Linked DNA regions of Homo sapiens. The protein of the gene in region 2 purifies or fractionates together with the protein of the main gene of each other region. This does not show direct contact. Each region holds a gene or a part of one and is shown on either strand. Other genes may lie near its edges.

What was found. The genes of interacting proteins can lie anywhere in the genome.
Region 1: the proteins of ACVR1 (region 2) and GRAMD1A purify together in Homo sapiens (affinity purification with mass spectrometry; 4 studies listed by BioGRID and IntAct, with this or other methods). This does not show direct contact.
Region 3: the proteins of ACVR1 (region 2) and TGFBRAP1 purify together in Homo sapiens (co-immunoprecipitation; 5 studies listed by BioGRID and IntAct, with this or other methods). This does not show direct contact.

Annotation. Positions count from the first base shown.
Region 1 is NC_000019.10:35,010,323-35,017,322, reverse strand, and holds part of GRAMD1A (protein Aster-A), read right to left. Parts: coding exon 6,944-7,000; intron 5,850-6,943; coding exon 5,769-5,849; intron 4,068-5,768; coding exon 3,955-4,067; intron 3,783-3,954; coding exon 3,632-3,782; intron 3,135-3,631; coding exon 2,936-3,134; intron 1,500-2,935; coding exon 1,356-1,499; intron 1-1,355. UniProt on the Homo sapiens protein: Cholesterol transporter that mediates non-vesicular transport of cholesterol from the plasma membrane (PM) to the endoplasmic reticulum (ER).
Region 2 is NC_000002.12:157,735,820-157,740,338, reverse strand, and holds the end of ACVR1 (activin receptor type-1 precursor), read left to right. Parts: intron 1-1,768; coding exon 1,769-1,899; intron 1,900-2,673; coding exon 2,674-2,808; 3' UTR 2,809-3,893; downstream 3,894-4,519. UniProt on the Homo sapiens protein: Bone morphogenetic protein (BMP) type I receptor that is involved in a wide variety of biological processes, including bone, heart, cartilage, nervous, and reproductive system development and regulation.
Region 3 is NC_000002.12:105,319,736-105,326,735, forward strand, and holds part of TGFBRAP1 (transforming growth factor-beta receptor-associated protein 1), read right to left. Parts: intron 1-7,000. UniProt on the Homo sapiens protein: Plays a role in the TGF-beta/activin signaling pathway. It associates with inactive heteromeric TGF-beta and activin receptor complexes, mainly through the type II receptor, and is released upon activation of signaling.

The sequences.
Region 1 (7,000 bases), on a different chromosome or scaffold from region 2:
GGCCATTCTTACATTACTATAAATACCTGAGGCTCAGTAACTTATAAAGAAAAGAGGTTTAATGGGTTCACAGTTCCACAGGCTGTATAGGAAGCATGATGCCGACATCTGCTCGGCTTCTGGGGAGGCCTCAGGAGCATTTTTTTTTTTAATGGAGTCTCTCTCTGTCACCCAGGCTGAGGTGCAGTGGCATGATCTTGGCTCACTGCAACCTCCACCTCCTGGGTTCAAGCAATTCTCTCACCTGAGCCTCCAGAGTAGCTGGGATTACGGGTGGGCAGCATCATGCTCAGCTAATTTTTTTTTTTATTTTTGTAAAGACTGAGTCTCATTATGTTGCCCAGGCTGGTCTCCAACTTCTGGGCTGACATGAACTTCCCACCTTGGCCCTCCTCCCACCTTTTTTTTTTTTTTTTTTGAGACAGAGTCTCGCTCTGTCGCCCAGGCTGGAGCGCAACGGCACGATCTTGGCTCACTGCAACCTCTGCTTCCCGAGTTCAAGTGATTCTCCTGCCTTAGCCTCCTGAGTAGCTGGGATTACAGGTGCTCGCCACCATGCCTGGCTAAAATATTTTTGTATTTTTAGTGGAGATGGGGTTTCACCATGTTGGCCAGGCTGGTCTCAAACTCCTGACCTCAGGTGATCCACCTGCCTCGGCCTCCCAAAGCGCTGGGATTATAAGCGTGAGCCACTGTGCCCAGCACCCCACCCCCCGCCCCTGTTTTTTTGAGACAGAGTTTGGCTGTGTCACCCAGGCTGGAGTGCAGTGTGATCTCAGCTCACTGCAACCTCCGCCTCCGAGGTTCAAGCAATTCTCCCACTTCAGCCTCCCAAGTAGCTGGGACTATAGGTGTGTGCCACCACACCTAGCTGATTTTTGTATTTTTAGTAGAGATGAGGTTTCACCATGTTGCCCTGGCTGGTCTCACACTCCTGACCTCTAGTGATCTGCCCACCTCGGCCTCCCAAAGTGCTGGGATTACAGGTGTGAACCACCGCACCAGCCCCGCCTCAGCCTCTTAACTTGTATTTATTAAACGCTTACTATATGGTATTGCTCTAGGAACTTTTCTAGTATGAACTCACTTAGTTCTCATGATAACCAATAAGCCAGGTACTATTATCATACCCCCATTATACAGAAGGAGAAACTGAGGCACAGAGCATCTCAGAACTCTGCCCAAGCCTACCCAGCTAGTAAGTGGCAGAGCTGCTTCTGGTCTGACAGACATTGCTTTTCACCACCTCGCCTTGCCCCACTGGCTAGCAGTGCCTTCCCCTGTCCTGGGCTACCCTTCCTCACCCCTCCCCTGCACCTGGGTAACCTCAGCCTCTCCTTCATGCGCCCGCTGACCTGTGAACTTGCACTGCTGTAGGAAGCCCTGGAGGAAGGGCGAGTCCGAGAAGAGCATCTGCTGGAGCCGCTCAGCGCCCACATGGAAGACAGAGTTGATGAGGAGGCGGCCGGAGAGGTCGGGAAGCAGGGCAGCCAAGTCCGCTGGAGACAGAGGAGAGCCGAGGATGATGACTGCCTCCACTCCTCCCTCCCTCTGCGGGCCACGCCTCCCCACTCCCAGGCCTTGTAGTGTGCATGGGCGGACCCCACCTCCTGGAGCACAGCTGGACACTGACACAGAGCCCTCCTGTGACTCAGGGATGGGTTGAGGGTGGGCACGTGCTCCAGGCCCAGACAGACAGCCACTGTGCTTGGTTCTGGGTGGAGAACACACCTAGGCCCTGAGATTTAAATCACAGGGATTCATTACCAGATAGCACGCCTCCTGGGAGCATCAACCTAGGGGCACAGCAATTGGTTCAGGGGTGAGTGGGTGGCCCAGGTCTATCCGATCAACCACAGTGATTGGTTCAGGGGCAGGCACACTCTCAAGTTGGCCCAATCAGAGCCAACCCTAGGGTGTCCGCTGTAGACACTAGGAAAAATAGGCTGCTCTCTCTCATTGGGCTGGTCTGGGGCAGGGCTGAGGCCATCTCTGCCCCATAAGAGACAAGAATAGAGGCTAGCTGAAAATTAGTGGAGAGAGAAAATGAATACAATAATGATAATAGAAATACTAATAGTCAATGCTTACTAACTGGCCCAAGTGCTTTAAATGTATGAAATCACTTAATTCTCTCCCTTTGTTCGTTTTAGAGACAGGGTCTCGCTCTGTTGCTCAGGCCGAAGTGCAGTGGTGCAATCATAGCTCACTGCAGCCTCCAACTCCTGGGCTCAAGCGATCCTCCTGCCTCAGCCTCCCCAGTAGCTGAGACTACATAGGGTGCATGACCCCATGCCTGGCTAATTTTTAAATTTTTTGTAAAGACAGGGGTCTCACTATGTTGCCCAGGCTTGTCTCAAACTCTTGGCCTCATGTGATCCTCTTGCCTTGGTCTGCCAAGTAGCTGGTACTATAGGTGTGCACCACCACACCTAGTTTTTTCTTTTTTTTCTTTTTTGTACAAAACGGGGTCTTGCTTTGCTGCCCAGGCTGTTCTCCAACTCTTGGCCTCTAGCAATCCTTCCTACCTTGGCCTCCCAAAGTGCTGGGATTACAGGTGTGAGCCATCACACCCAGCCTCATTTATAGTCTCTTAACAACAATCCTATGAAGTGGGTATTATCATTGTTAACCCCATTTTCAGAGGAGGAAAGCAAGCTCAGAGAAGTTACATAATTTGCCCACGTGACATGGTCAGGAAGTGGTGTGACCAGGATGTGAACCGCGGCAAGCTGCCTTCAGTCTGTGCTTGTGTTCACCCTGCCATGCTGCCTTCAAAACAGAGTAAAGACAGAGATTTCTAGCAACAGCGCCTGAACGCCATCCCGCCTGCCCCTGGATTCTCAGTGCTGCGGGCGAATCCATCCCCTCTTGCTTAAGACTGAGCGAGGCTTGCAAGTACCGGAGGCGAATGAATTGGGCCCGCCTGCCTCACCTTCCTCCCCAGTGGATGAAGAGGAGTTACTTGTGTCTGTCAATAGCTCCTCACTGGGCAGCAGATCCAAGGGGCCCAGGGTGGTGGGCCCGTCAGGCTGGGTGGGCTCTGTGCTCGGGGGTTCAGCCACCGGGGTCACTGTCTGGCTGGAGGAGGCGTCTGGCTGGCTGTCTACCTGCTCCTCCTTGTCCTCCTCTGCCTGTGGAGAAAGGCCCGATGCAGCCTTGGCCACCTCCATCCCAGCCCCAGGGCTCCCAAGTCCACACTGGCCACAAGGATTCCAGAGCCTGTGCAGACCCGGGGTGGTGTGTGCACCGAGGGCTCACGGCTGAGCTGCGAGCAGCCTGGGGCCACCCAGATGAGGGCCCCTCTCAGCCCCTGCCAGGCTTGTCTCAGATGCCTGAGCCATAAGCTTTCTTACCTGTCCTGTCCGTCTGTCTGTCTGCTGCTTCATCTATCCACCCATCTCCCATCCCTTCTGTCTCTCATCCTTTCTGTCTGTCCCCTCTCTTCCCTGTCTCTCTTTCCCTGTCACATGTCCGTCTTCCCCTCCCTGTCCTGTTCCTCCATCCAGGCCTCCCCTGTCCCCCTATCCATTCCCCTCCAAATCTGTCAGGCTGTTCTTCTCCCACTGCACCCCCAGCCCTCCTCTCTCTTCCTATCAGTATCCCACCCCTCTTCCAACCCACCGCTCACCCCATGGTCTGCGTCGCTGCTGGCTCGGGAAAGGTTGGGCGTGACATGGCCACGGCGCGAACCCACTGGGCTTGGCTCCTGGCTGCGGTCAGCTGCCCCCGAGGAGGTGATGTCGCTCAGGGCGATCACATCTCCCACTTCCTTGGGGGTCCTGTGGGAAAGGGGAGGAAGCGGGACTGCTGTGTCCTTGAGACCCCATACACCCTCCTGAATCCTCCAGACGTCATACAACCATCTCAGGCCCCCCAGCACTCCAGGAACTCTGCACGCCGACCGTCCTGTTCTCCCCCGAACCCTTCAACCTCCTTTGACCTCCAACTCACCCCAGACCGTTCAGCTGCAAGGGGGAGACATAGTCCTCATCCTCACTGGTGAGGCCCAGCTCTGAGCCGTAGCACTGATGCACCAGGTGCCAGAGCTCGCGGGGACTCAGCGTCTGGGGAGGCGGGACCTGGGGTTGGCCTCCATCTCACCCCAGCCAGAGCCCGGCCCGCCAGATTCCCCACCAGCCCTCGGCCTCCGCAGTTCCCCTGGCTTCCACAAGGAGGCAGCCACGATCTCCCGCACCAGACCTGGCCTCAGCAAGCGGGGAATCCCCTGCTACAGCCCCTCCAGGGCCTGCGCCCAGGACTCAAACTTCCTGCTTCCCAAGTCCCCACAATACTCTGGCCAGAGAATGTTCCCATTTTTTTTATATCTTTTTTTGTTTGTTTTTTGGAGATGGAGTCTGGCTCTGTCGCTCAGGCTGGAGTGCAGTGGTGTGATCTCAGCTCACTGCAACCTCTCCCTCCTGGGTTCAAGCGATTCTCCTACCTCAGCTTCCCAAGGAGCTGGGATTACAGGTGCGTGCTACCACGCCCAGCTAATTTTTGCAATTTTAGTAGAGACGGGGTTTCACCATGTTGGCCAGGCTGGTCTCGAACTCCTGACCTCGTGGGCACCACGATCCGCCCGTCTTCGTCTACCAAAGTGCTGGGATTACAGGCATGAGCCACCGTGCCCAGCCATGAATGTTCCCATCTTTACAGAGCATACGGAGTCCCAGGAAGGGGAAGTCATGTAGGGAAAGTCATGTGTTCAAGGTCACCAAGTGACTTGGTCAAGCCCTGCCAGACTCCAGGGCTGAGTCTCCCATGCCTATGCCATCGTGGCCCCCCGAATCTTTTCCCAGGTGTCCTCGGGAGCCTTGAGCTTTCAGCCACCCATGGCCAGAGTGGCTGAATGACAGTGATGACAGTTAACAGTAAGTGATGATAGCAGCAGACATTTGCCACCTGGTCAACTAGGTGCATTCTTCTAACCACTTTACAGATGTACTAACTCACTGTATCTTCAAAACCATCTGGAAAGTAGGTGCTAACCTCATCATCCTTTTAAGACAATGGTGCTGAGAAGTGCAAGGTGACATGCTGGGGTCCAGCCAGGAAGTAGCAGTGCTGAGATGTGACCCCAGGGGAGCTGGTCTACAGCCGGGGGGCAGAGGGGGTGGCGAGGGAGCTAACCGCTGGGCTACTCTGCTCATAAGAGCTGACATGACTGAGTACTTATTCTGGGCAAAATTCTGGGTGCTGTGAAGTGGGGATGGCCCCCATTTGACAGATGGGGTTCAATCACTTGCCCCAGGGGATGGGGCTGGAATCCCGGGGCTCTGCCCTGTCCTCCTTAGGGCCTGACTGTGCGCTGTCCCTCTCTCAGGATGCTGAATGGGACCCTCAGCACTCCTGCCTGCTCCAGGGACATCGGAGCCTCTGAGAAGGCAGCGCGTGAGTGCCGCTCAGCCGGAGGATGGGGCTGGGGCTCTCTGAGGTGCTGTGGACCAGCCATAGCCGGCATCCTGTGATGACCTCCCAGCCTCTATCCACACTCCCCCGCTGCCAGTGGAACCTGGATGTCCTTCAGGGTGAAAATCATTCCCAGCCCCAGGGAAGAATTACGACGGTTTACACCAATTCATGTCCCTTTGCCAGAGACTCAGCTTCGGGGTCAGGTGGGGCCCAGGGAGGAGCTGCAGGGGCACTGGGCCTGGTGCCCATGGAGAAGAGCCAGGGCTGCCTCCAGCTCCGCAAGTTCTGGGGTCCCTGGCTCCATGGTCCCCCTGGAAACCCCCCATCCCCACCCGGGCCTCACCCAGGCCCACCTTTTCAAGCAGTGCATTCTGCCAGAGGCGGAAGATGAGGAGGAAGCAGCGGTCACGGGCCCCAAAGGAAGTGAAGAAATGCTGTCAGGGAGAGAGAGAGAGAGAGGTGTGAGCAGGTTGGGGAGCGACCAGGACAGAGGTGGGGAAGCGCCACCCTCATCTGCGCTGACGCCACATCTTTGGCCCCATGAATCCACTAATTCACCCCTGCATTAGTTCCACAAAACGTCTGTCCTGCGCCCGGCCCTGCCCTGGACAATTCCAGAATCACTGGGATGGGGAGACGACCCCTGGCCCTGTCCTTGGAGCTCCCAGTCCAAGGAGGGGACAGATGCATCTCTAGACAGGGTCAGCCCAGAGGGGCTGGGATGTGATGGGGGGAGCCCAGGGAACTTGCCCAGCCTCCTTTGCCACTAAGAATGGTCAGTTGATCCTTTTTTTTTTTTTTTTTTTGAGACAGGGTCTGGCTTTGTCACCCAGGCTGGAGTGCAGTGGCATGATCACGGCTCACTGCAGCCTCAACCTCCTGGGCTCAAGCCATCCTCCTGTCTCAGCCTCCTGAGTGAGTAGCTGGGACTACAGGTGCGTGCCACCACACCTGGTTAATTTTTTGCTTTTTAAGAGACAGGGTCTCACTATGTTGCCCAGGCTAGCCTCAACCTCCTGGGCTCAAGCAATCTTCCTGCCTCAGCCTCCCCAAAATGCTAGGGTTACAGGCATGAGCCACTACACCTGGCCAGATCCACTTTTAACCAACAAAACACAAAGAGAAGTCTGCTGGGAAGTGTCCCCCACACCTGTCCCCCTTCTTGTTGGACCGCTGGTGAGAAAGCCATCTTGCAACCAACGGACATGAGGCCACAATGACAGGGACAGGACACAACATCGGGGAGACTTACGAAGGGAGGGGCGGCTGAGGTGCCACATACATGGAAGAGTTTTACTATTTCTGCTGTTCCTGAGCAGCTGTGTGAGGTAACAGGTTGCAGGGAAAGAGAGGAGAGGCTGGTGCGGGGATCAGGTCAGGGGTGATGGGCGCCTGGGCCGGGAGAACAGAGAGAAGGGGACAGCTCGGAGAGAACTCAGGGTGCAGAACAAATGGGGCTTTGCATGTTTGGGGGAGGCGGCCTGCTGAGCGGGGGACCGCGTGGTCCCGTCACCGGGTCCTCCGTCACCTTCTCGCTCTCCGTGCAGATCTGGATGGCGTTGGGGATCAGCTTGGCCGTCTTTTC
Region 2 (4,519 bases):
GGTGTTCCAAGATTTCTGAGAGTAGCAGTTTATACCCAATATGATGTTTATGATTTGCCAGGAAAGGTTTTAATCCACTGACTGATATGCATTTCAAATGCAGTTACACAATGTGGGTAAGTTATTTGGAATTAACTAGTTTTTTTTTTTTTTTGAGACAGAATCTCACTCTGTCACCCAGGCTGGAGTGCAGTGGTCTGATCTTGGCTCATTGCAACATCCACCTCCCGGGTTCAAGCAAATCTTGTGCCTCAGCCTCCTGAGTTAGCTGGAACTACAGGCACGCGCCAACACACCCGGCTAATTTTTGTATTTTTAGTAGAGACAGGGTCTTGCCATGTTGCCCAGGCTTGTCTCGAACACTGACCTCAAGTGGTCCACCCACCACGACCTCCCAAAGTGCTGAGATTACAGGCGTGAACGACCACACCCAGCCTAGATTTTTAAAAAATATAATTTAGACTTGTTTCCATCTCAAATATAAACCTTTATTTAGCCAAATTTGTGAAGTTTTAAAAAGATATGTAGCATTTCTTGAAAAGATGCTCCTTATATCTAATCTTTTGCATAAATGGTTTGTATTTGTATGGAATTTGTAAGGATGGATTCCCACTGTTGAGTAATTTCTGTGATAAATGAAAAGGGAATTGAAGCTTTTCAGGTGGCTTGTAGGAACTAGAACAACCGAATTACAACTTTCCTCACACTCCTTCTGTCGCCTCCAACAACTTCTTAGGTATTTAGGAATAGAAGAAAGTCGCCTGGAGGAAGAAAAGAGAGCAGTAAACCAAGTTATTACCTCATTGTTTGAACCCTTTGTTGAGGGAAAGGAAATAATAGATGTCTTGGTTTTATTTCTATGAAGGGGAAGAATCCATTTTCTAATTCCAAATGATGAAGTTAAAAATTTTTCTGTTTAAGGAGTTGATATAATTCTGCTGGAAAAGAAAAAGTTTCCAGGCCATTGGAAATCATGCAGGGGCAGAAGCTGGTATTAGCTACTGTTCATATTTGCTTTTGGGCAGAGGAAGAGTTCATTATTTATCCTTCTTTTCCTCTGCCTTCCCACATGGCTATCCTCTTTACATTTTATTTTGTGCCTTCAATATGATAGTAAATAATAGAGCCATCAGTCAGACAGCTGTGCCTGTAGTTAGAGGGTACTCAGTACATGTAGAATGAATGAATGAGGAAATGAGTATTTCCTATGATATTATTTGCATCCCTCCTAATGGAAGAGATTAATTTATAGCAATGTTTTTCTTAACAAAATACTTTTCTAACAAAGAAAGGGGTATTTTGATGATGGTCTTGGTTTATTACTCCCTAGCTCTAGTTTGTGGACAACTTTTTATTTCTATTTATGGTTTGAAACCACTAGATTCAGGTACTTTCCATAGGTAGCTTGGGTGGTTTTTATCACCAAAGGAATTTTTGTTCTATGTCTCCAGTGCCCTGTTGGGCGTTACAGAGCTGTTAATATACACTGTTGGAGAATTTTGCTAATAGTTATGATTACATGAGAAGTTTTCACGTATTTCCTTCTAACAATTATCCTTCTTCCAATACCATGCAGGGTGTGTATTTATTGCCTTTTTCTCCCACCTGTTTTAGGACCTACCTCTAGCTTCCAGGACTGCCCTGAGGTATGAGGAAGGTGATTAGTATTTTCTTCTGTCACATTATAACCTGTGACACCCATCAATGAAACCTTGGGGCAACCTGTACTCTCTTGCTAACCGAACACAATTCTTGTCCTTGTGTGCAGGTATAGTGGAGGATTACAAGCCACCGTTCTACGATGTGGTTCCCAATGACCCAAGTTTTGAAGATATGAGGAAGGTAGTCTGTGTGGATCAACAAAGGCCAAACATACCCAACAGATGGTTCTCAGACCCGGTAAGAATGCCAGTTTCTCAGTTTTAGAGCTCTTTTCCATTGTTTGCTATTTGTTTCCCTTTGAGTTTCAACTGGTATTGCATCTGAGTGATCTGTCCCGTGGATCTGTTGTTTTCTCTTCCTATTTTATATAGAAGGGTTTAGATCTAGAAGAGTAAGTTCAGAAAAATACTCCATTCTTGAAGAAGCCATATCTCATAGGGGTTGCTAGTGAATGACAATATTTGTAAGAATTTCTGTGAATATGCAGCTTCAGGAATCGGGAGACTCATGACTACTGCTATTAGCCCTAAGACTGCATGTATAAACCAAGAGACTTTAAGTGAAGCTTTTAACCTCCTTTCCATCTCTGTATATCTGAAATCCCAAACACAAGCTGCTGGATGCTGAAGATCCTGTATTGCTACTCATAAGTAGTAGCAGGTATAAAACAATGAGAAATGACCCTATTTGGAAATTTCAGGATTATCTCTAGGTTAGTATTGCTGCTTTTGGCACCCATAAAATCATTAAGGGGTCCAATCTGGCCTATGTCGTTTACCTAATAAATTGGTAGCATTAAGAGTCCAAAGGACAGAGTTCATGAAATTCTAAGAATGGCCTCTTTATCAGTGGTTAAAGGTTGAATATTTGCTTGAAGAAGATGACAGTAACATAACTCTAATTTCACAAGACCTGCGAGTTCTTCAGAATAGTAGACATGATATCAGCCCAGCTTCCAGGGCCATTAAAAAGCCAGTTTGTCATTGTGGTGTTTGTTCTTTCTCTCCTCAGACATTAACCTCTCTGGCCAAGCTAATGAAAGAATGCTGGTATCAAAATCCATCCGCAAGACTCACAGCACTGCGTATCAAAAAGACTTTGACCAAAATTGATAATTCCCTCGACAAATTGAAAACTGACTGTTGACATTTTCATAGTGTCAAGAAGGAAGATTTGACGTTGTTGTCATTGTCCAGCTGGGACCTAATGCTGGCCTGACTGGTTGTCAGAATGGAATCCATCTGTCTCCCTCCCCAAATGGCTGCTTTGACAAGGCAGACGTCGTACCCAGCCATGTGTTGGGGAGACATCAAAACCACCCTAACCTCGCTCGATGACTGTGAACTGGGCATTTCACGAACTGTTCACACTGCAGAGACTAATGTTGGACAGACACTGTTGCAAAGGTAGGGACTGGAGGAACACAGAGAAATCCTAAAAGAGATCTGGGCATTAAGTCAGTGGCTTTGCATAGCTTTCACAAGTCTCCTAGACACTCCCCACGGGAAACTCAAGGAGGTGGTGAATTTTTAATCAGCAATATTGCCTGTGCTTCTCTTCTTTATTGCACTAGGAATTCTTTGCATTCCTTACTTGCACTGTTACTCTTAATTTTAAAGACCCAACTTGCCAAAATGTTGGCTGCGTACTCCACTGGTCTGTCTTTGGATAATAGGAATTCAATTTGGCAAAACAAAATGTAATGTCAGACTTTGCTGCATTTTACACATGTGCTGATGTTTACAATGATGCCGAACATTAGGAATTGTTTATACACAACTTTGCAAATTATTTATTACTTGTGCACTTAGTAGTTTTTACAAAACTGCTTTGTGCATATGTTAAAGCTTATTTTTATGTGGTCTTATGATTTTATTACAGAAATGTTTTTAACACTATACTCTAAAATGGACATTTTCTTTTATTATCAGTTAAAATCACATTTTAAGTGCTTCACATTTGTATGTGTGTAGACTGTAACTTTTTTTCAGTTCATATGCAGAACGTATTTAGCCATTACCCACGTGACACCACCGAATATATTACTGATTTAGAAGCAAAGATTTCAGTAGAATTTTAGTCCTGAACGCTACGGGGAAAATGCATTTTCTTCAGAATTATCCATTACGTGCATTTAAACTCTGCCAGAAAAAAATAACTATTTTGTTTTAATCTACTTTTTGTATTTAGTAGTTATTTGTATAAATTAAATAAACTGTTTTCAAGTCAAACAGTGAAATTGTTTTTCAAAATATAAAAAAGATCTGTGTAACATTATGCATTTTCTTATGGGAGCAATAGAAGCACAAAACTAATTTGTAAATTGAATTTGCTTTTTAAATCTACTCATGAACTTATGTAAGACATCATAAGGATGTCTTACAGCTTGAATTTGGTATAAGAAAATTTGTTTCTTCCTTTGGCTGTGATTTTTTTGTTTTTTTGTGTTTTTTTTTCAGTCAGTTTCTCCAGCTGTAAGGTGAGGGTAACAAATCTCTCTGACCTGCCTTTCTCACAGGGGGGTGTTGTGAGTGTAAACGGGAAGGAGGATGTTAAAGCATTTTGTTGAGTGAAAGGTTCCACGTGAGTGTAAAGTGGTCTTATGCATCCGCCCTTGCTGCTTGGGAGAGTCCGTTCTCGGTTTTTTCACTGCTTGTACACAAGATTAAAAGGTAGAGTTAACAGTAGCCCAATAAGAGAAGAGGTGTGAACATGCCGGAATGTCTTCCAGAGGTAAGTTAATAACTTCATTAGGATGTATTTACTTGGAGGGTATATATTAGAATGACATTTTTTTAAATTACAAATCAAAATTTTAATTTGTGTTACAGATAACATAAAACTTACTAATTTTTAA
Region 3 (7,000 bases), about 52 Mb from region 2:
ACATTAACTATATAAATATTAGCATAATACATATATAAGATTTTAATATATATGTTTAACATATATAGGTATATATGTGTTTAATGCATATATACATATATGTATGTGTGTATATATTTGTTATATAGTGAAATATATATTTGTTATATATTGAAATATATATATTTGTTATATACATACATACATACATGTTATATACACACATACATACACACACACACACAATAGGAAACTCCTAATCTGGTACAGAGATAAATATATTCTGCCAAAAAGAATGCTATGACAAACTGGCATTTATTAAAATGGGCTCTTTACCAGTAATTATTCTTGAATCAAAGAATGACACTTTGTTATCTGCTCTACCAAATAATGTCCACCTGAGAGCCAACTTTAAGCTTGGCCTGGTGTCCTACGTGTCTGCAAAAAACCCTCACATTTTCTAATTACTTCACAGCTTATAAATGAAACAGACTCTTCAGAAACCTATGCAGCTATATGTGCACCAGAACTTCATCACCCTGGGGGAGGAACCGCAAAAACTCAGCCCTATAATAGAAGGCACTGTCCTATGAATAAGCTAAAAATTAATTCTGTATCTGCATTTTAAAAAGGACACACTACCTCAAGTAAGATTTGTTATTTTCTCATTTTACAGCAAGAAGTTTTTTTTTTTTCTTTATGATAGTCCATCAAAAATGAATAGAGATCAAGTGGTCATTCTAACATTTGGACCAAAGCCAGGTCAGATCTGAAGGCAATGCAGAAAGGAGGCAGGAATGTGGGCCACACACCTGAAACACTAGGTCATTATCCTCCTTATAACATACCAGAAGGTAGTTCCCTGCCCAAAAGATAAACTCCAGACTCAGCTTAAGAAGCACAGCCCTTAAAATTTTAACCTCAGCCAACCTTTCCTCCTTTATTTAGTAAGAAAAATTATAGCTATTAACCTATTCTTATTGTTCCATAATATCAGTCTCTTATTGTATAAGCTACAATCAGTTCGGAATTGCTGCTGAGTTCCAAAGAGCCTGTAAGTGTCCAAGGCACTCCACAAACCAAGCAGTTGTCAAAAGGGATTTCAGTAAACACTACTCTCTAGATACCTTTCCAAAGGATTAACACTATGAGTCAGAAAATAGTTACCATTAACTACAGTGGTGGGATCGAATTTAACAACGTAATAATCCCTAAAGGAAAACACACTGCCTCCTTCTCATCTGTCGCTAGTCCATATGAAAAGTAGCAACGTCTGGTGGACAAGGGCAGCCTCAGAATGGGCTCTGGGGGACGGCACAGATTCCCACACACTGGACTTCCTCTGACTGGCTGATGGCAGGGATCCTGGCTTTAGGCGTGAGTATCTTTCTTTCTTTGCATCTTCCTACAATTTACAGTTTTTGTATAAATACAATGACTTATTTATTTATTTATTTTTTTTTTTTTTGAGATGGAGTCTCTTGCTTTGTTGCCCAGGCTGCAGTGCAGTGGCACGGTCTCGGCTCACTGCAACCTCTGCCTCCCAGGTTCAAGTGCTTCTCCTGTCTCAGCCTCCTGAGTAGCTGTGATTACAGGCAGCCGCCATCATGCCTGGCTAATTTTTTGTATTTTTAGTAAAGATGGGGTTTCACTGTGTTGGCCAGGCTGGTCTCGAACTCCTGACCTCAGGTGATCTGCCCACCTCGGCCTTCCAAAGTGCTGGGATTACAGGTGTGAGCCACCATGCCTGGCCTACAATGATGTTTTTCAAGTTTCTATTTTGCCATTTTAATATAGAACTTTTATAGAAAAAAAAATGTTTCTCTGAGAAGCAGTTTCTCAATTAACCTGGATAAACATATCTACTAAGACCATGAAGCCATAGACAGATAGCAATGTCCATCACAGGGGAAAACTGAACACAGTGGCGTGCTGTATAATGACATTTCCATTAACAACAGACAGCATCTACAACAGTGGTCCCATAAGGTTATAATGGAGTTGAACAATTCCTATCACCTAGTGACAATCTAACTGTTGGAACATTGTAGCAAAATGCATCACTCATGTGTGGTGTTGCTGGCGTACACTAACCTACTGCAGTGCCAGTCGTTGAAAAGTCTAGCACATTCAATTACATACAGTATGTAGTACTTGATATAATAATAAATGACTATGTTACTGGTTTATGTATTTACTCCACTACACTTTTTATCATTATTTTAGAGCGTACACCTACTTATGCAGGAAAAAATAAGTTAATTGTAAAACAGTCCTTCAGGAGGACTCCAGAAGAAGAAATTGTTATCACAGACAACAGCTCCACACATGTTACTGCCCCCGAAGACCTTCCAGTGGGACAAGATGTGGAGGTGGATGACAGGGATAAGGATGATCCTGACCCTGTGCAGGCCAAGGCTAATGTGTGTGTGTTTGTGTCTTCATTTTTAACCAAAAAGTTTAAAGAAAAAAAAAGAAAGAAAAAACTTATAGAATAAGCATATAAAGAAAATATTTTTGTACAGCTATACAACATGTTTTCAGCTACATGTTATTACAAAGAGTGAAAAACTTTTAAAGAAGTTTATAAAGTCAAAAAGTTACAGTAAGCTCATTTATTACTGAAGAGAAGTATTTTTAGAATAAATTTAGTGTAGCCTAAGTGTACAATATTTACAAAGTCTATGGTACTGTACAGTAATGTTTTAGGCCTTCACTTTCACTTGCCACTTACTCACTGACTCACCCAGAGAAACTTCCAGTCCTGCGAGCTCCATTCACAGTAAGTGCCCCATACAGGTGGACCCTTTTTTTAGTATTTTATACAGTATTTCTACTATCCCTTTTCTGTGTTTAGATGTGTTCAGATACACACATACTTTGGTGTTACAAGATTCTCTTGTGCTTAGAGATTCAGGACAGTAGCATGCTGTATAGGTTTGCACCCTAGGAACAATAGGCCATACCCATATAGCTTAGGGTATGAAGCTATACAGGTGTATAATACACTGTACCATCCAGGTTTGTGTAATTCACTCTATGATGTTCATATGATGACAAAATTGCCCCATGGGAGATTTCTCAGACCATAACCTAGTCATTAACTGATGCATGACTGTATATCATATATTAGCTCTAAAAACCAAACCTATAAGTGAACTGACAAAAGTTGCCATAGATCCTAACAGCCTTTGAGACGGATGGGGGGCAGACAGAGCTTGGCACACTTCAGCCGTTCACAGCTCCCAATCAACCAGTCAGGATGCTGGTGCCATATAATTAGGAGAGAAAGCTAAATCACCGAGGACTCAGCCAAAAGCAAACCATGGTGGTGAGGAGGAAGGTGAAGGAAAAGGGTGGTATGCAACACAGTGGGACACCTTGCCTTATTCCCCATGTTTTTTGAGGCTGGTCCTGAGAAGTTTAAGAGAGAAAGACTCAGAAGCATGCATTGGAGGCCAGTTTTCTTGTGGTCCCAGTGATGGTGGCTCTTGTGACGCCTGGATGAGGAGGGAGAGCCTGGAAAAGTCAGGTGGTGACTTCAGTAGAGGGGGCGGGGGGATGTGCTGACACCCACCTCTGGCTTTGTCAGCTTCCTGAAACAGAAACAGCGTGGGCAGCTGCCAAGGGACCTGCTGCTCAGCCTCTATCTCTGCGACCCCTTGGGACTCAGTGCAAACTCAGACCTTCCTATCTCCCTTTGGCACAGGCACCAACCTCATGCCCATTCTTCCTCTCCTGACCATCATATCGTGGGTATTGAGCAGGACAGGCAGGTATGACTGGACACTTTTTTTTGCAGGCAGCAGGGAGTGAAGGCTTGAAAACCTCTATTTCCCATGCTGCATTCCTGACTGAATGAAGAGCCAAATCACAGCCTCAAAATTCTATATTGGGTGAGAAAAGGCAAACCTTGCCAGCAATATTCTCCCACTGCAAGCTACCTTCAGATGCAGTGTTTGTGCTAAATGAGTGAAATGAGATGTCAACAAAAGTCCCTACTAGAAAACAAACTGCCAAACACCTCCAATTCCCATGGGGGGTTTGATAGGCTCTCTGACAATCACTGAAGTCCCATCTGAAAAATGCATTTTGGTAGGTTTACGGGTTGACTTAAAGTCTTGAGATACTGATGTGGTTTTCTTAAATGTGTTGTTTCTATAGATTGTGAAGGTGATTGTCAGAGAGCATCTCGAATCCCCCATGGGAATTGGAGGAGTTTAGATAAATCCAAACTGAGGGATGGTCTACAAAATCTCTCACACCCTTTCAAGTGTGTTAAGGTCACGAAAAAAGAGGAAAGGCTGAGGAACTGTCACAGATTAGAAGCCAAGAATAAGTGACAATTAAATGCAAAGTGGGGAAACTGGATCAGAAAAAGGATCCTGGAACAGAAAAAAGACATTAAGCAGAAAAACGGGTGAAATTCAAATACTGTGTGCACTTTATAGTGGTATACTAGCACTAATTGATTCATTTTGATCATTATACTACAGCCATACAAGACGTTAACAAAAGAGGAAGCTGGGTAAAGTGTATTCATGAATTCTGCACTATTTTGCAACTCTTAGGTAAGTCCAAAATTACTTCAAATTTTAAAATGAAAATGTAATCGTGGTATATTGGGTAATTATCTCACCTTAGAGTGATCAAGAAATAGAAAAGAAACCTGGGAATCTCCTTTTCTAGCAGGAAAGGAAACAGTCATAAGACTGTGTCAGTGACTAAAAAGGACAAGCATGAACCAATACCCATCAGTCCAGCCCAGGACTGCGCTAGCACACTCTGGGCTACTGGAGCCTTTTTTATTGAGCCACTTTTAGAGGTGATTTTTCTCCAGCCAAGTGTCCTCGCTTAAAATTACAAGCATGAATAATACCCATAAGTTAAAAGTTTTTTTTTCCTTCTGAAAATGCATTTCAGAGGAGAGTTTGGGAGTTTTACTCATTTGGAGTCTTTCCCCTGACAGAGGGGCTGAGATTGGGTTGGGGTGAATGTGAGCTGACTCCTGCTGTGTTCAGAATTGGATATACCATGAGCTTTGGGAGAAGCAGTTAAGTGGGGGACTCTGAGGGTGGACACTCAGGCTGGGAAGGAGCACAGCCCCTCAGTAATAAGGATCAAGGCCCCAGAGCGAAACTGGGCCACCCCGGCAGTGAACTGTGGTAAATGTGGGCACGCTGCATAGCAGACATTCCCGACATTAATCTGGGAATCCTGAGCTCTGCTTGTTGCTTGGTCACTTCCTGATGATCTTAGGCAACTCACTAAGAGGCTTTGTCTGGGCCTGTGTTCTCTATAAAACAGAAATTTGGACTGGGCTGTGTGCTTCTCCTATACCATTCTCCAGCTACTTCTGGATGAAGAGGAAGGGAATGGAGGTCTTGAAAGGTGGAAGAGTCATGCTGGTAAGTAGAGAGCTGGGATTCCAACCCAGGTAGTCAGCTCCAAAGCACACATCCTTAATCAGATGCCACACTGGCTCCCAAGGCCAATGCTGCCCCAAGCCTGGATGATGGATGGCACCCATAGGCTGCAGCCCTGGCTGACACCCTGACTGCCCCCTCAGGAGAGCCCCAAAACTGGGTTTGGTGGGATACTGCACACTCGATATAGCATTATCCTTTCGTTCTTACCTTGACGCTGAGAGGTGGACATTATTATGGAGATACAGAGATCTTAGGTGGCTTGCTCAAGGTTACCTGGCTACAAGGTGATGAAACAGGGCTTTGACCCTAGTTTTTGTTCGTGACTCCAAGGCCATATTCTTATTGATTGAGGGGAACAAGTATGATTTCAGATCCTCTCCTAGAATTCAGTTCTGAACAAAGCAACAACTCTCAGCAGGAGGCCACTATGGTACTTAGAGTGGCATGCTGCTGCAGTTCCTGAGGAGTCTTTGCTATTGCTTCCCCACCGTGAGTCTAGAAGAGGAATCCTGTGGCTCTATCTGCTTGCTGAAATTCAGACACAGAATAGTATGTTGACACAGTTCTCTACTAACATAGTAATCTACCAAAACAGGATACACATTTATGTGACAGCAACTGCTTTTCCTGAGCTGCACCCCATGCTGGTCCCGTGTTCTTCTCTAAGTCCCACAGCCATCTGTTGAATGACTCAATCTTGAAATTTGTCAGGAATCAACAATAAATTTACTGGCTTGTACAAAAGTCAACTTTTCCCCCCTTTGAAAATGAAGATACTGCTTGACAACCATTTTATGTTATCTTTTGCACTCATGCAACAGAGACAGCAAGATTAGTTATAGTGCAATGAACCTGCTCTGATAATCTGCAAGAGTATCTAAAAAAAGAGGATTAAAAAAAGACAGTTAAGGTCTAATATCTAACTTGTCATCTTAATATTATCATGATGTATATTTAATATATGTAACTATTCATAGTTGGTATCCTTTTTACTGGGCAATACTAATCAAAATTATTTAAATACATATAAACATATATTTATATACACACACATATATACACATACTATATATGGTGTGTGTATACATACATATGCATAAGGGTGTATGTGTGTGTGTATGTACATATATATAATATACATCCTATAAGAGTACCATCAGCAGTTAGAATTAAAAGGGTTTAGGAAGAGAAGTGGGAGGTAGAAGAAGAGCAGAATAGAAATATGGCATTTACTTCATAACATCTTCCTCAATACTGAACCTTCAAACAGCCACAAAAAATTATCGAGTACTGGCCAGGAGCAGTGGCTCATGCCTATAATCCCAGCACTTCGGGAGGCCGAGGCAGATGGATTGCTTGAGCTTAGGAGTTCAAAACCAACCTGGGCAACATGGTGAAACTCTGTCTCTATAGAAGAATACAAAAATTAGCCGGGCATGGTGGCATGTGCCTATAGCCCCAACTACTTGGGAGGCTAAAGTGGAAGGATCACTTGAGCCTGGAAGATGGAGGTTGCAGTGAGCCGAGAACACGACACTGTACTGTAGCCTGGGTGACAGGGTGAGACCCTGTCTCAAAAAAAGAAAAAAAAA